Linked DNA regions of Homo sapiens: regions 1 and 3 are each linked to region 2. Evidence: fine-mapped expression QTL. A gene starts in region 2. Each other region holds a variant in brackets. All regions are shown on one strand. Distances are from middle to middle. Region 1 overlaps LOC105378565 (a long non-coding RNA gene). Region 2 holds the start of DPYSL4 (dihydropyrimidinase like 4). Region 3 overlaps JAKMIP3 (Janus kinase and microtubule interacting protein 3).

Region 1 (5,236 bases), 330 kb after region 2:
TGTACACAGAGCAACACCTGCAGAAATGCAGGGAGGTCACAGGTGAACGAGGTAGTGTCATGAAAACCTCAGTCCTTCCCCTATGGATGTGTGAACGGGATGCCACCTAAATAGAATTTCTAAAGAGATGTTTTCCATTTTCTTTTTTGAAATAAAAAGAAGTATTTAAATTCACATCGAGGAATAGTGTCTGAAAATAGTTGAGAATGTTTTCTAAAGAACAGTGAGCCAGGAATCACACCTTATCAGATACTTAGATCCCAACAGAGCCGATGGAATCCTGACGGCATGGTTTTGGCCCCAGGAACATGCAAGAAGAGCTGCCTGGAGTGGGTCCAAGTTCCAGGGGAATTTCAGGCAGCTCAGCGGGAACTGGGGGCTTGTATAACAGAAGGTGCTGGCATGATGGGCGATGAAGGAAAGATCCAGAATCCTGTATCGCACCATGCATAAAAATAAACCCCATCGAGAATGAAGAGTTGGATGTAAAGTGTGAAAATATTAAAAGATACCTAAAGATAGCATTCTATACCCTTGGGATGGGAGAGAGCTTCTCCCATAAGACGGGATATCTAAAAGCCATAAAGGGAATCAGACTTTGTCTTATGAGGTGCAAAATTTCCCCCTTCGATTATTTGCTTCTGGTACATTTTGCAACATTTAAACAAAAATTTTAAACAAAAAGTGAATATCTCTTATATTAAAGCGTTCTGACACCATGATAAAAAGACATCAATAGTAAAGCAGAGAATATGGAAAGGCATCCCACGGAACAGGAGACACAAATGGCTGGTGAAGAGAACAAAACAGGCTCCTGCTCCCAGCAGTCAGGACGTAGCTGTGGTGTGGAGGCTGCAAGTCAAGCCCAGCAAAGGTGACTGGGTGTCTAGGGACCAGGTTCCTATGCAGGTAAAGATGGCCAGTATTCAGTGGCTGGGGATCCCCAGACCAAAGCAATTTGTCAGCTCCATGGGAGTCGTGCAGGTGTGACTGGCTATCAGACTGCTGTGGAACGAGGCGACTGTATCAAGGTCCCCAGGCTCTAGTTACTTTAGGAGACAGCCTGGTGGCCAAAGAGAACTGGTTCTGTCCACCAGGTCACTGGGAGGGTCCTGGGCCCAGAAAAAGGCTTGTTCATGAAACTGCTTTCCAAGACAGTCACACTGGGAAAAAAATGTCTCTAAAATTCTGGTTCTTGAGCCATTTCATGAGGAGCTGAAGTCCTAAAAAAGGGATGGAGTTTGCAGTGACTCGTTGCAGTGACTCATTGCAGTGCCTCGTTGCTGTGACTTGTGAGGCTGAGTGGGCATCGCTACCTGCATACCTCTCCCCAGACTCCGTCAACCACCTAGGCTGAAAGCTGTTCTGATGGGAAGATTCCATCCCAAGCCCCTGGTGCCCTCCCCACTGGAGGATTTTTAGCGAGATGAGAGGCTGAGCCAATTCTGGACCAGCCTGGACAGCATCCCTGTGGATGACCTGAGACATACTCAGCTGTCCCCACTGGCCGGTCCTGATTCATCCCCAAGACTCTGAGGAAGAAACTCTGCACAGCTGACTGCTGCTTCATGTCCTCCCTCAAAACTACGTTTTTGGTGTTGCCACCCTCCTCCTGGCCATGTGGGTCTCCCACGTTCTCTGCTGCCGTCCAGCAGGTGACCCTGGGAGGGCTTCAGTTTCCCTTCCAGTGCGGTGGAGTCGCCTTAGCCTGATCTTTGCAGGGACCCCATGGCCCCACCCTTTGCCCTGCCTGCAGAGGGCGCCGGCCGAAGGGCCCGAGCACCTTTAAAGCCTGCCCTGAGAAACACCCGCCTCGACCGCTGTGGCTTGACACGCCTGGCTCACACAGCGTGAAACGGAGGCCTTTGGCCTACTTTAAAGAAAAGGGTGGATGTTTGGGGAAGAAAATGAGGTTTCCTGAAGTCTCCAGCCCCAGTCTCGATGCCGGAAACCTGCTCGTGTTTCAGTATCCGATGCCCCGCCCTCCTGGGCACCACTGCCCTGCTCTGCGATGAGCAAACAGTTGGTGCCTTCTGTGTGCAGCCAGGATTTCTCTTTCACCCTCCTCCCGACCGGCTGCCGGCAATGGCGCTTTGGCCCCACTGCTGAGGGGCCGCACTGCCGAGGGGCCGTCGAACCTGTATGGATCTAAGACCCATCACGCCTCCCGCCGTCACTCAGGGGTTGCGGCATCATGACCACACGCTTCAGAAACATTCTCTC[T/G]AAAAATTTGCCCCACATCTCTCCTGCTCAGCATTCCTTGGACTTGAACAGCTATCAGGAAGGTCCCTGTTCCCCCTACTCCACCCACTCACCATGCATTTGATTCTCTGAAGTCACTCCAGGCCCTTGGGGAGGAAATGGGGCGCAGTATTGTCTCATCCTGAAACCGGCTTAGAGCCTCCTGATGGGTTTGCAGCAGGGCCAAATCTGTTGAGACAGCTTCCTCCCACTCCGTGGCTCCATCCGTCAACACCAGCATCCTTTGTCTGGGTGTGAATGAGAGCCGGGAACGTTGGTCCTCGCTCCTGTTCTCGGGTGGCACGGTGGCGGCTGAGGCTGGCCTCCTGTCCCAGGCTTTAGAGATCGTGGTGCTGGCTTTGGAGTGGGCTGTGGCTGAAGGCTGTGCTGCCCCTGCCTGAGGACCAGATGGGGATGGGACCTCCACAGTCACTCCCCTGGGTGCTGCCAACCAACTCAGCATGGCCTCATGAGGACTCAGGGTCCTGTCCCCGCCCCCCCGCCCCTTGCCCTGTGGCCCTGGGCAGCCGCCTCAGTCAGAGGCAGGCTCTGAACCACTGCACGCTGACAATGAACTATACTAAGAGACCTGTTCGGGATGGGGGTGCCCAGGGCCGCCCCGGATGAGTCTCCGGTTTACGCATCTGCATGGACTTCTCAGAAAAGGCCATGGCTTCACCCCTCAGCACCCCCGACTCATGTGCCCTGCAGGTCCACGGCCTCAGTTTGACTTGCTTCTTCTGGCCATGCTGGGTCCATATCCTGCCCCAGGCGTGCACCCAGGCTTCTCCTCCATCTCTTCCTCCACACCAGACTGGAGAGTACCACTGGAGTTGGCAGAATCATGTCCCCAAGGATGCTGCTGTCCCACTACAGGACCTATAGATATGCTAGGCTATGGGGGGCCATGGGGGGTGCCGTGAGGGGCTCAATATGCTCATCAGCTGACCTTACCCGACGGGGAGGAGCGTGGAGAAGCCGAGGGGCTCAGAGCCAGGGAGGGCAATGTGAGGGCTGGGCTGGATGCTGCTGGCTCTGAGGACGGAGGCAGCTTCCTTCTAGAAGCTGGAAGGGGCGAGAGAAGGGATTCTCCCCTGGATCCTCTAGAAGGAACCAGCCCTGCCAGCACCTGGACTTTAGCCCAGAGAGCCCTGTTTCACTCCGTACGGACCCCTGGGGTGTGAAGAAAGATGCCTGTGCTGCTGTGAGCCACCAAAGTACGTGGCGGTTAGTTCCAGTGCCACAGGAAACGCGCATCGGCACCACCAAACAAAACACCAGGGCTGTGCCCGGCGCCCAAGGCCAGGTGAGATCCACTGTCTCCCTGGCTGGGCCTGGCCGCACCTGGGGCCGCTGCACTCCTGCTGCCCATCTCCACGTGTTCTGCTGGCTTCTCTCTCCCTGTGGCTGCCCGAGGCATTGATCTGAGCTCACGCCTGCCCTGACGGGTTTCTGGCTCACAGACCTCTACTGGCCAATCTCCACTGGCCTCTCTAAGTTCTGAGGCGTCTCTGGAGTGTCTTCCGCCTGCTTGCCTCTGGGAATCTGAGCTTTTCCTTCTGGATTCTTCTGCCATGGAGCTTACTCTGGGGCCACCATAGCTGTGCTCTGCCTACCCCACCAGTATTGGGGCTGTGAGTGTGGTTTAAGGGTCATTAACTGAACAATACGCAGCATGGGCCCCCACCCAGGCCATCTCCACGCAGCTGCCCGCGGGGCAGAGTTCAGGTCACTCCGGGGCTCAACACCCTCCTGAGGCTCCCATCTCAGACTCGGCCTAAAGCCAAAGCTTTGAAGGCCCACAGGGCCCTGCCCAGCCTCCCCCGCCCACCCCGCTCCTCTGATTGATTTCCCTCCCCTCTCTGCTCCCTCCTCCCCCAGGCTGGCTGCCCAGCCTTCTGTAGCCTGCACGTTGTAGGGCCCCAGGGCCTTCGCACCTGCTCCCTGCCTGGAAAGTCCCTGGGGTTCTGGAGGCTGTTCCTCACACTCCCGGGAAGCCTTTGCTCCTTTCCCTCCTCAGGAGGCACCACCCCGACCTGGGCACAGCTGTGACCATGGGCCCTCCTGCTCCAGCCTGTGAGGGCGACACCTCGCCCGCTCCTGACTTTCCAGGGCAGGAATGTTGGGGGTCGGTGACATTCAGAGTGTCCCTCTGGGGTTACAGACACCCAAAGATGTGCCCAAAGACACTGCCAGTCACACGCTCCGCCAGGGTGGGCACAGCCGGTCACAGCTCTTGATTTCCCCGGTGGAGATGCCCGCACCTGCATTTCCAGGGGGTCCAGCCTCACCCTCCTGGGCTCTACCCCACCACCGATTCCACCCACCTGTGCTGTTCGCTGTTGGCTTCTGCCCCAGAGCACCAGGGGCACCGCTGGCTCCTGCCGCTGCAGCTTCTGTGCTTCTGGGAGGCGTGGCTGTGGGAATGGGCTTTCAGCATGAAGGGTGCTTTGGTCTCTGTGCAGGGATGGGCACTGACAGGACAGGCCTCGGGGTCCTGGAGGGAGGAGCCACTCCCTGGGGACAGGCGGGCCATGGATGGGCCTGGTCCAGGGCATGGGCTCTGCCAAGGCCAGCGTCCGGAGGTGCTGGCTGTCCCAGAAATGCTGTGTCAGCCCTGAATGGGCCTCCGCTCGTCTTCCCCATAGCCCTGGGAAGGCAGACTTTTAAACTGGCCCCCAGGTGCCCGTCCTTGCAGGGCACACACCTTCCCCCTGTCATCCAATCACCACAGTCCAGAGGCTGCTGGGGAGGGATTCTGCAGGTGTAATGAGGGCCCTTGCTCAGTGAACCTTCAATGGGGGCATGTGCTGGGCCCTGAGCTGGTCAGGTGAGTCCTTAATGGGGCCTTGAAATTCTGGGCAGCTGGGGTTCAAAATGGGAGGGATCTGGCCCGGGAGGATTCCTCTGGGGCTGGGCTGGGTGACTCTGAAGATAGAGGAGACACGCTGACCTGGGTGTGGGCCTGGCTGACAGCCAGCAAGCAAGCAGTGAC
Region 2 (5,236 bases):
CCACCGTCTGGCGTGCGCCTCAGCACGCCCTGCAACTGACCCGGCAGGACTGACCGTCTGCATTTAACAGGGAGGTCCGGCCGCCTGCTCTGGGTTTCCAGGGCCCACCCATAGGTGGCCAGGGCCCTAGCCTGGGGCTAGAGCCTTCACGCACCGTCAGTCTGAAGCCAAGAGCATTAAACTGAAGTGCACAATTGGTAAAACTCTCAGAATGAGAAGGAGTTCATTATCTAGGAACTCCATTACAGGATTCACTGCTGACATCTAACTGTGGGGCTGTATTTTCAGGATCCCAGTGACTTGTCAACCTCTACCCCATAGTCTACAAACGGTTGGCAGACTATGCCACAGGCCAGACCCAACCCTCTACCTCTCTTCATACAGCCCTAGGCTAAGAATCGTTCTTGTATATTCACTGAAAACAATAACAAGAGTATGTCATGACTCAAAAATTCTATGAAGTTCACACTGCAGCATCCACAGATGAAGTTTTGTTGGAACACAGTGGTGCCCATCGACTTCCTAAATGTCCAGGACTGCTTTCCTGGCAGGGCCAAGCAGCTGAGACAGGAACAGCGTGGTCCGCAAAGCTGACAACATTTACTCTCGGGCTGGTTGTGGAAGAAGTTTTAGACCCTTGGTCTACAGAGCTGTCTGTTCCCAGCCGCTGCACCTCTCCTCCTCCTGCCCAGTCCCAGCTGAGCGCCAGGCTCAGCCCTGACCCGGCACCACCATGCATTTGCAGAGCCTCTGTGGCCGCATCAGGCCCTGGCTGCCTTCCCGGTGCTGTCCCTCTTCTTCACTTTCCACCCCTCCCAGGGGACCCACGCATTTTCAAGGAAGCCCTAGAAAACGCAACCGGGCAGAAGGAGGCTTGAGGAGACGTGTGGTCTGGGCTCTCTGCTCATAGGCGCCCAAGTGTTCAGGCACCCGCACTGAGACTGGGTTTGGAACCCAGAGGAGACGCAGCTGGGGTGTGGGGCTGTGCTCTTCTTACTGCACTCATCCGGATGGAGGTGAAAGTTCCCGGGAAGCAGCTGCCCCTCCGCACTGACATGGTTGCCTGACCTCCCCTGGGAAGGGGTCCTCCTGCCACCCCCAAACTCGACCCCCACATGCCAGCTGACTGGCAAGACCTCCTGCATCAAGACCAGACCCAGCCGGGCAGAACCCTCTGGAGGCAGCAGCCCCTCCCATCTGGAGAGGGGAGGGCTCCTTCCTCGCTCAGAGTCTGGGGGAGTGGAGCCCACAGCCCACGGCTCGAGCTAATGCCAGAGGTCAGACCCCACGGCCCTCCCGCCGAGGCCAAGTCCAGAGTCGGGTCTGGGACCCCATGGACTCCCCCGCCCAGGTCCTGCCGGGTCCCGAAGCCTCCTTCCTCCCACCCCCATCTCCCCCCGCCCGAGCGGGGAGGCTTTGTTTCTGGCAGAGCGGGACCTCCCGCGCCGGTGCGTGTGGGTGTTGGGGAGGGGTCTCTGCTCTCGAAGGTTCAGGGGCTGCCAGGGTTCCCGGCCAGTGGCCCTTGACCGCTCGCTTTCCTTGGAGTCGCTGAACCCAGGTTACTGGAAGGGTTCGGGGCCACCAGGGACTCCGGCCAGAGCGGCCGGGGCTAAATCGCTTTGTCTCGGACAAAGAGCTCCCGACGCAGCGCCAGTGCGTCCAAGGGGCGGGCGACCCACGGGCTGCGCCGGGAACGGCATCTCCCCGCGCCCCGGACCAGCCCGGGCCAACAAAGGGCCGCGTCCGCCCGCCTCGCCACCCGACCGCCGTGGGAGAAAGGAGCCGCTAGCGCTCCGAGGGACAGGCCGCCCGGCCCCGGGTTCTCCCCGGGCGCAGCCGAGGCTCCCGGAAGCCGGCAAGGCCGGGCAAGGCCGGGCAGGGCCCGGCAGGGCCCGGCAGGGCCGGGCAGGGCCGGGCCGGGCCGGGCCTGGGCGCCCCGCTCCTTAAGGGGGTCTGCGCGGCGCTAGCGGGGACTCTCGGACCCTGGGGCGCGAAGGAGCCGAGCAGGGAAGGGCGGGCGCCAGGACAGGGACCAGACGCAAAGGCAGGGACCCCCCACCCACGCACAAGACCAGGAGGGTCCGCCCGGCGTCCAGGCCCCACTCCGGGCGGCGGGCAGGGGGCGCCGGGCGAAGCGGGACCGGGCTCACCGTGATCCGGGGGATGCTTTTCTTGCCCTGGAAGGACATCCTGCTCCTGGGGGTCTCTGGTAGGGGCGGCACAAGCGGGGGCGGGCGGGCGGGCGGGCGGGCGGGGGGACGCGTGAGCCGGGACGCGTGCGTGGGGACGGCGGGAGACAGACTGCGAGCGCGCGGGGCCGCACGGCTCCGTTCCGGTCCCGCCCCCGCTGGGCCCCGCCCCCACCCCGGCTCCGCCCCCGGCAGGCCCCGCCCCCGATAGGGCCCGCCCCAGCCCGAGCCCCGCCTCACCCCGCCCATCAGCCCCGCCCCCGCCCTCAGCCACTCCTTCGCTTTAAAGCCCCCCCAGCGCTGGAACCGCTGCAGGGTCTGATCTCTGCACCCCGGGCCCCCGCGCAGACCCGCGGACGAGCGCTGGGTGGGGATTTCAACCTGCTCCAGCTGATGTGCGCGGGGTTTGCACCCCGGGGAGGCGAGGGAGAGAGTCCGGCCACGTCCTGCCAGGCCCCGCCCGCGCCCCCGCTGCCCTCCAGCGCGGAACCCAGGTCCCAGGAGACGCGAGGCGCCCAAGGCCCCGGGATTCCGAGCCAGTCAACCCCGGGCCGCGACGCTCTGGGAACCACACCCGTCCAGGAAGGCACCTTGGCCAAAGCCGGCTCCTTCGCAGATGACCCGGGCCAGGGTCCGAGCGCCAGGCTGTGACCCCGCGAGGCTGTTCCACGCTGGCCGCGAGAGACGGAGGGCAGGAGGGGCCCGAATAGGACAGAGAGAGAGAGAGAGAGAGACAGAAGGAGGCGCACGCGCTCCCCAGGGACCGGGACGCGGTGGTGGGCGGGACCTCGCGGGGGTGGGGGGTGGTCGCAGGACCCAGAAGGCTCAGGACCTTTACGGATAGGGAGGACCCCGCAGGGGGGAGCGGGGGAGCCCCACGCCCGGCGTCCTCCGGGTGCGAGGGTCTCGGGGAGTCCGAGCCCGGGCCCACGGCCTCTGTCCCGCGGCCACTACCTGCTGGGGGTCCCGGGCCTGGGCCACGCCGGGCTGCCCTCGGGGACTTGCTGCGGCCGTTGAGGGGTCTCCGCGCGCCGCGCAGACTCGCCTCCCAACCCGAGGGCCCGGGCGGCCGCCGCCCAGAGCGTCCAGCGGCAGCGTCTTGCTCTCGAAGGCGTCCTCCACGCAGCGGAACACGCAGCCAAGCTTGGGCCGGGCCAGAGGCCTCGCGGGCTCCTGAGGCTGCCGCGCGGTCACGGCAGGAGCGGGCGACAGAATCCGGTCTCGGAGCCTCCTGTAGCGAGGTCTGCGCGGCAGGTGCACTGGGCGGACCTGGAGGCCGCGCCCTCCCCCCCCGCCTCCTGCCGCCCGGCAGCGCTGCGCGGAGCTGGCTCTGTCCACGTAGCGGGTGCTGAACGCCCCATTCTGGCCCCTGGGTGCTCGCTTAGTCCCGGCCACGCGTGGCTGCTCGCCCTCGGGACACACTGGGCGCTGGGAAGGCCGGGCGGGGAGCGCGCACCGGAGAAACCGCTGTGGGAATCCCGGCCACATTTCCAGGCCCCTTGGGCCGTCCCACGCCAGACAAGAAAGCCCTGACTCCGAAACCCTGGGCGAGTGTGGAGGGCGCGCGGGGGTGGGGTGTACCCGCCCACGCAAACTGCTGCTGATCTCCCTTAAAGCCGAGTTAGAGGCTTGGGGCGAGACAGGAGTGACGGGCGATGCTGTCACTCCATCTGTCATTCTACCCAGCCTGCAGCAGCTGAATTCGAACCCAGAGACTTCAGGCCTTTGCGTTGTTACCGCAGTCCGCATTTCAAAGCCAGAGTTTGGCCACTGAGTCACCATGACCTCGAGTACTGGCGGGGCCCGAGCCAGCAGAGCTAGGTCCAGCAGCTTCCCACCCCTTCGTCCTCCTCTGGGCTCCCCCTCCCCTAAATGATTAATGCAATGTCTGTTACTCACCTGTGTGGGACCGTCCACGGCAAATATCACCAACTGTTCTTATGCACGTGCAGAAGTTCCGTCCCTTTCCTAACTGTCTGATCTCTTCCATGGTTCACATTTGACCAACAGCCACAGGAGGGAGCCTCCCAGGTGGTCGACCGGAGCCAGGTGCTGCCAGGCACCCGACTGCAGAGCTTGCCCTCCAGGTGATCTCGCAGGTGAGAACTGGGGCTTTCCTCCACAGTGGGCGGAAGGCGCGGACTCCGTTTCTGGTGTGCAGAGGCACTGTTCAGAGAATGAACTCAGAAGTGCAGAAATGGCTCATACGGCTTTCAGTTCAAACTTTAATACCTTTGAGGGGACTTTAATCGTCTAAGATTTAAAACATTTTTTATTAAAACTGTACAATAATTTACAAACGAGTAAAAAATTCTCTGGTATATATCATAGGAATCACAATACAAAAATATTTGTAAAATCTTGTAGATCACCATACAAACCTATTTTAGGCCTGTGAATACTGCTTAGCATGGAACGGAATGTCACGTGGTTAGAGGGTGACTATGAAGGGAGTGCCTGGGAGAATACACACACTACCTGGCATGCCGCCGTAAGAAAACAGGCCCGGTTAGTTTTTGCATAAATTTACAATAAAGCTTTTTAAAAAATATACAGTAAACAAATATATGATTTGATACCTATATTCACAATATGAGTTTCCTGAGGCTAAACTGAATTCCATTACTGTGATAAAACACACACTCTCTCTCAGGGTTTCAAGGATGGGATGACGGTGAGTTGGCGAATGCGTCAGTGCCTCCAAACCCACACTTGGGCACTCTCTTCTTTTTGACTTCTAGTATCGGTGTTCACAAGCCCTGTAAGGCACTCGGGGTATCCTGAAGGCTACAGATTCTGCAAGGGCAGAGACTTTAAGGAACAGCCATAGTCCTTCTCCAGCTCAAAATCTGGACCATGGGCACAAGGTAAACAACACACTGGTGTCAACAAAGGAATCTGCTATTTATGTGGATTTTTACTTTAGACAAACTAAAGTATCTATGTTGTTCTGTGTGTTGAACACAGAGTGTGATGATGTTAATATAATGTAAATGTTGATGTAACAGTACATTTCTGGCAACATTTCAGGGTCCTTCCTCTTGCCT
Region 3 (5,160 bases), 28 kb after region 2:
AGCATCACACAGGGAGAGATACCCCCCAGCATCACACAGGGAGAGACCCCCCCCAGCATCACACAGGGAGAGGCCCCCCAGCATCACACAGGAAGAGACCCCCCCAGCATCACACAGGAAGAGGCCACCGCCTGCATCACACAGGAAGAGGCTCCCCAGCATCACACAGGGAGAGGCCCCCCCCAGTAAGACACAGGAATAGACCCCCCCCAGCATCACACAGGAAGAGGCCCCCCCAGCATCACACAGGGAGACCGCCCCCCCAACATCACACAGGGAGAGACCACCCCAGCATCACACAGGGAGAGACCACCCCAGCATCACACAGGGAGAGGCCCCCCCAGCATCACACAGGGAGAGGCCCCCCCAGCATCACACAGGGAGAGGTCCCCCAGCATCACACAGGAAGAGACCCCCCAGCATCACACAGGAAGAGGCTCCCCAGCATCACACAGGGAGAGGCCCCCTCAATAAGACACAGGAATAGACCCCCCCCAGCATCACACAGGAAGAGGCCCCCCCAGCATCACACAGAAAGACACGCCCCCAGCATCACACAGGAAGAGGCCCCCCCAGCATCACACAGTGAGAGGCCCCCCCCAGCATCACACAGGGAGAGGCCCACCCAGCATCACACAGGGAGAGGCCCACCCAGCATCACACAGGAAGAGACCCCCTAGCATCACACAGGAAGAGGCCACCGCCTGCATCACACAGGGAGAGGCCCCCCCCAGTAAGACATAGAAGTAGACCCCCACCAGCATCACACAGGAAGAGGCCCCCCCCAGCATCACACAGGGAGACCCCCCCCCCAGCATCACACAGGAAGAGACCCCCCAGCATCACACAGGAAGAGACCCCCCCAGCATCACACAGGGAGAGGCCCCCCCAGCATCACACAGGGAGAGGCCCCCCCCAGTAAGACATAGAAGTAGACCCCCACCAGCATCACACAGGAAGAGGCCCCCCCCAGCATCACACAGGGAGACCCCCCCCCCAGCATCACACAGGAAGAGACCCCCCAGCATCACACAGGAAGAGACCCCCCCAGCATCACACAGGGAGAGGCCCCCCCAGCATCACACAGGGAGAGGCCCCCCCAGCATCACACAGGGAGAGGTCCCCCAGCATCACACAGGAAGAGACCCCCCCAGCATCACACAGGAAGAGGCTCCCCAGCATCACACAGGGAGAGGCCCCCTCAATAAGACACAGGAATAGACCCCCCCCAGCATCACACAGGAAGAGGCTCCCCAGCATCACACAGGGAGAGGCCCCCTCAATAAGACACAGGAATAGACCCCCCCCAGCATCACACAGGAAGAGGCCCCCCCAGCATCACACAGTGAGAGGCCCCCCCCAGCATCACACAGGGAGAGGCCCACCCAGCATCACACAGGGAGAGGCCCACCCAGCATCACACAGGAAGAGACCCCCTAGCATCACACAGGAAGAGACCCCCCCCAGCATCACACAGGAAGAGGCCACCGCCTGCATCACACAGGAAGAGACCCCCCCAGCATCACACAGGAAGAGGCCACCGCCTGCATCACACAGGAAGAGGCTCCCCAGCATCACACAGGGAGAGGCCCCCCCCAGTAAGACATAGAAGTAGACCCCCACCAGCATCACACAGGAAGAGGCCCCCCCAGCATCACACAGGGAGACCCCCCCCCAGCATCACACAGGAAGAGACCCCCCAGCATCACACAGGAAGAGACCCCCCCAGCATCACACAGGGAGAGGCCCCCCAGCATCACACAGGGAGAGGCCCCCCAGCATCACACAGCGAGAGGCCCCCCAGCATCACACAGGAAGAGACCCCCCAGTATCACACAGGAAGAGGCCCCCCCAGTATCACACAGGAAGACATGCCCCCAGCATCACACAGGGAGAGGCCCCCTGAGCATCACATAGGGAGAGGACCCCCCAGCATCACACAGGGAGAGGCCCCCCAGCATCACAAAGGAAGAGGACCCCCAGCATCACATAGGAAGACATGCCCCCAGCATCACACAGGGAGACACGCCCCCCCAGCATCACACAGGGAGAGACCCTCCCAGCATCACACAGGAAGACACACCCCCAGCATCACACAGGGAGAGCCTCCTCCAGCATTACACAGGAAGAGAGCCCCCCCACCCAGCATCACGCAGAAAAAACACACCCCCGGCATCCACAGGAATAGGCCCCCTCAGTAAGACACAGGAATAGACCCCCCCCAACCAGCATCACACAGGGAGAGGCCCCCTCAGCATCACACAGGGAGAGGCGCCCTCAGCATCACACAGGGAGAGGCGCCCCCAGCATCACAGAGGAAGAGGTGCCCCCGACATCACACAGGGAGAGGCCCCCCCAGCATCACACAGGGAGAGATGCCCCCACAGCATCACACAGGGAGAGATGCCCCCACAACATCACACAGGAAGAGATACCCCCACAACATCACACAAGGAGAGACGCCCCCAGAATCACACGGGGAGAGACGCCCCCAGAATCACACGGGAAGACACAACCCCAGCGTCACACAGGGAGAGGGCCCTCTGACATCACACAGGAAGAGACCCCCCCCAGCATCACACAGGGAGAGGCCCCCCCCCAGCATCACACAGCGAGAGATCCCCCCCAGCATCACACAGCGAGAGGTCCCCCCCCCCAGCATCACAAAGGAAGATGCCCCTCCCACAGCATCACACAGGAAGATGCCCCTCCCACAGCATCACACAGGAAGATGCCCCTCCCACAGCATCACACAGGAAGATGCCCCTCCCACAGCATCACACAGGAAGATGCCCCTCCCACAGCATCACACAGGAAGATGCCCCTCCCACAGCATCACACAGGAAGATGCCCCTCCCACAGCATCACACAGGAAGATGCCCCTCCCACAGCATCACACAGGAAGATGCCCCTCCCACAGCATCACACAGGAAGATGCCCCTCCCACAGCATCTCACAGGAAGATGCTCCTCCCACAGCATCTCACAGGAGGA[T/A]GCCCCCAGTCCCCTCCAGAGTAGGGGCCATTAATCCTGGCCCAACCAGCAACCATGTGCCTCCCCACTGGTCTTTGGGGCTGAATGATCCCCTGAGCAGTTGGCCCCATCTGAGGTCTGAGAACACAGCTACTGTGGAGGTGGCAGAGAGAGGTGGCCTCACAGAAAGCTGAAGCTGGGCTTTGATCTTCTGGAAATGTGTGTGGAGACCTACATCTCTAATCCCATGGGGTGTCCATGGGATGTTTGATCACAAGGACCATGGTGGCAGTTGCTCTGGGCCAGGGCCCCCACTCCTGGAGCTCTCTATGCTCAGATCCTGCATTCTGGTCAGGTCAAGGGGGCCCATAGGCCACTTCTCCACTCATGGGACAACTCTCCCGACCCAGTGGAGGGATTCTGGGACTGAGGCATCACTCCAGACACAATCTTACAAAGGGGAATTATCTGTGACGTTAGGGTGGAAAAGGTGGATGGCTGAGTAGACAGATGCTGCCGGGGGCGGGGCGGGGCGGGGCGGGGCGGGGGGGCGGTGGGCAGCCATCCTGGAGGTGCATAAATTTCCATTTCCTCTTTACACCTGCCTCACACACACCTCAAAGTAATGCTGAAAGAAAACACTGGAATTTTTTTGTACAATCTCTTTTTTTTTTCTGTACGAAGTTGAAATTATGCCATAAAACCTGGAGGCCATCAACCTCGTAAAAATTACCCAAATTCTGCCAGGCCCTCAAAACAGTGTTTGATATCAAAGAGCAACAACAAGCTGGGTGAAATATTTGCCATGTCCCATTCTTCTGACTAAGGAAATAAAGGAAATATTTGCAATGGATGGCAAAGGGCTGGTTGCCTTCTTTTATCAAGAGCTCTGACCAAAATGTCAGATAGCATGAGAGAGGTGGGAAAGGTTACAAACAGACGTGGCGTGGAGTTGCATAGAAACATGTTAGACTTTGAGCTCACCAGAGACATGCCTGCTAGGACTGCACCAGGCGGCTGCATATCATGCAGTGGAAGTTTGGGCTGCAAGTTATACCTACTATGGGGAGAAATATTCGGCAGTTCCTAACAACACCTTAAGTGTGCATACCCTTTGGTCATTCCAAATAACTTTTCCTGCAGATAATCTCCATTTGTGTGTCGGGACGTCAGAAATGGATAGGAATTGCTGTTTTGCTGGTGATAGCTAATGCATGGACAGTACCTAAGTCCACTACTGGGGATGAACAGTCCATGATGCGCTCACACCAAGTCACTCCTTGGGCTGGTGGGAAGCGCCCTGGCTGTGCACAGTCAGGTGAAAGGGAAGCATGCTGCAGCTGGTGGGTTTCTCAGGCTATCCATGAAAATGCACGTGCGCACACATGTGGTTACACCCCGCACTTCAGAGAAGGAGAAGAGAACCAGCAAGTGGGGTCCCCTTTGTTGGTGGCATCTGGAGTCCAGAGAACAGGAACGGGAAGAAAATGTCCTTTTCTACTGTGAACATTTCCTACCATTGGCATGATGACCATCTCTCGGAGAACAAGCCTCAGATAAGCATGGGGACCGCGCTTTTGCAAAGATACTATGTGTATCCCCATCCTGCCAAGAGACCATCAGGAGAGAAACCAGAATGCCCACAGTCTTTCTCTGTGTGCTGGGCACGTAGTGAACTTTTTTCTTGGATTTTTCTGTGTTGTAAATCAGAACTATACATTGATTATTCTTTCATTCAGAAAAAAAATGCAATATTAAAAAAAGAAATGCATGTCCTTCTCTTCCCTCTCCTGTCTCAAGGTGGGCTGGATTTAAAAACCTCCGCATAATCCTTAGCTCTTTTCCTCTTCACCTATGCATCACCCGCAAAGCACCTGCTGCCTGCCAGGCCTCGTGCTGGTCTAGGAGACCAGATGGCAGCAGATGCACATGGTCCCTGCTTGCCCCATAGAAAGGCAGAACCACTTCCATGAGTGGGGCATGTCAGGGCCACCTCACTGGGGGTCAGGGAAGGTTTCCTAGAGGAGACGAGGTACCAAACTGAGGCTTGCAGTGTCAATCAGGGATGGGCAGGAGAAGGAAAGGGAGGGCGCCCCAGGCAGATGGAACAGCAGCAGCGAAGGCTGGGTGGGGTCCTCTGTCTCCCGGCCTGCTGTGGTGGTGGCTGCACAGCAGTGGAGATGCCTGC

Evidence for each region. PIP is the estimated chance that this variant, and not a neighbour inherited with it, causes the effect.
Region 1: its variant is the best candidate, but not a certain one, in a credible set for the expression of DPYSL4 in amygdala (GTEx, PIP 0.55).
Region 3: its variant is the best candidate, but not a certain one, in a credible set for the expression of DPYSL4 in whole blood (TOPMed, PIP 0.57).

Annotation. Positions count from the first base shown.
Region 1 is chr10:131,855,600-131,860,835 of GRCh38, reverse strand. It overlaps LOC105378565 (a long non-coding RNA gene), which reads left to right. Exons shown (of 2, transcript XR_946487.4): 2 at 1-174. Among named protein-coding and RNA genes, the nearest start is that of PPP2R2D, 43 kb to the left of the region's middle. The variant T/G (reference allele first, on the strand shown) is at 2,224.
Region 2 is chr10:132,184,017-132,189,252 of GRCh38, reverse strand. DPYSL4 (dihydropyrimidinase like 4) reads right to left here and starts at 2,305. Exons shown (of 14, transcript NM_006426.3): 1 at 2,151-2,305. The coding sequence starts at 2,189. JAKMIP3 (Janus kinase and microtubule interacting protein 3) reads right to left here. Exons shown (of 24, transcript NM_001323087.2): 24 at 4,395-5,236. JAKMIP3-AS1 (JAKMIP3 antisense RNA 1) reads left to right here and starts at 2,501. Exons shown (of 4, transcript NR_184044.1): 1 at 2,501-4,288; 2 at 4,931-5,056. RefSeq lists an enhancer at 1,085-1,586.
Region 3 is chr10:132,156,437-132,161,596 of GRCh38, reverse strand. All of the region lies in intron 19 of JAKMIP3 (Janus kinase and microtubule interacting protein 3), which reads right to left. Among named protein-coding and RNA genes, the nearest start is that of JAKMIP3-AS1, 28 kb to the left of the region's middle. The variant T/A (reference allele first, on the strand shown) is at 2,994.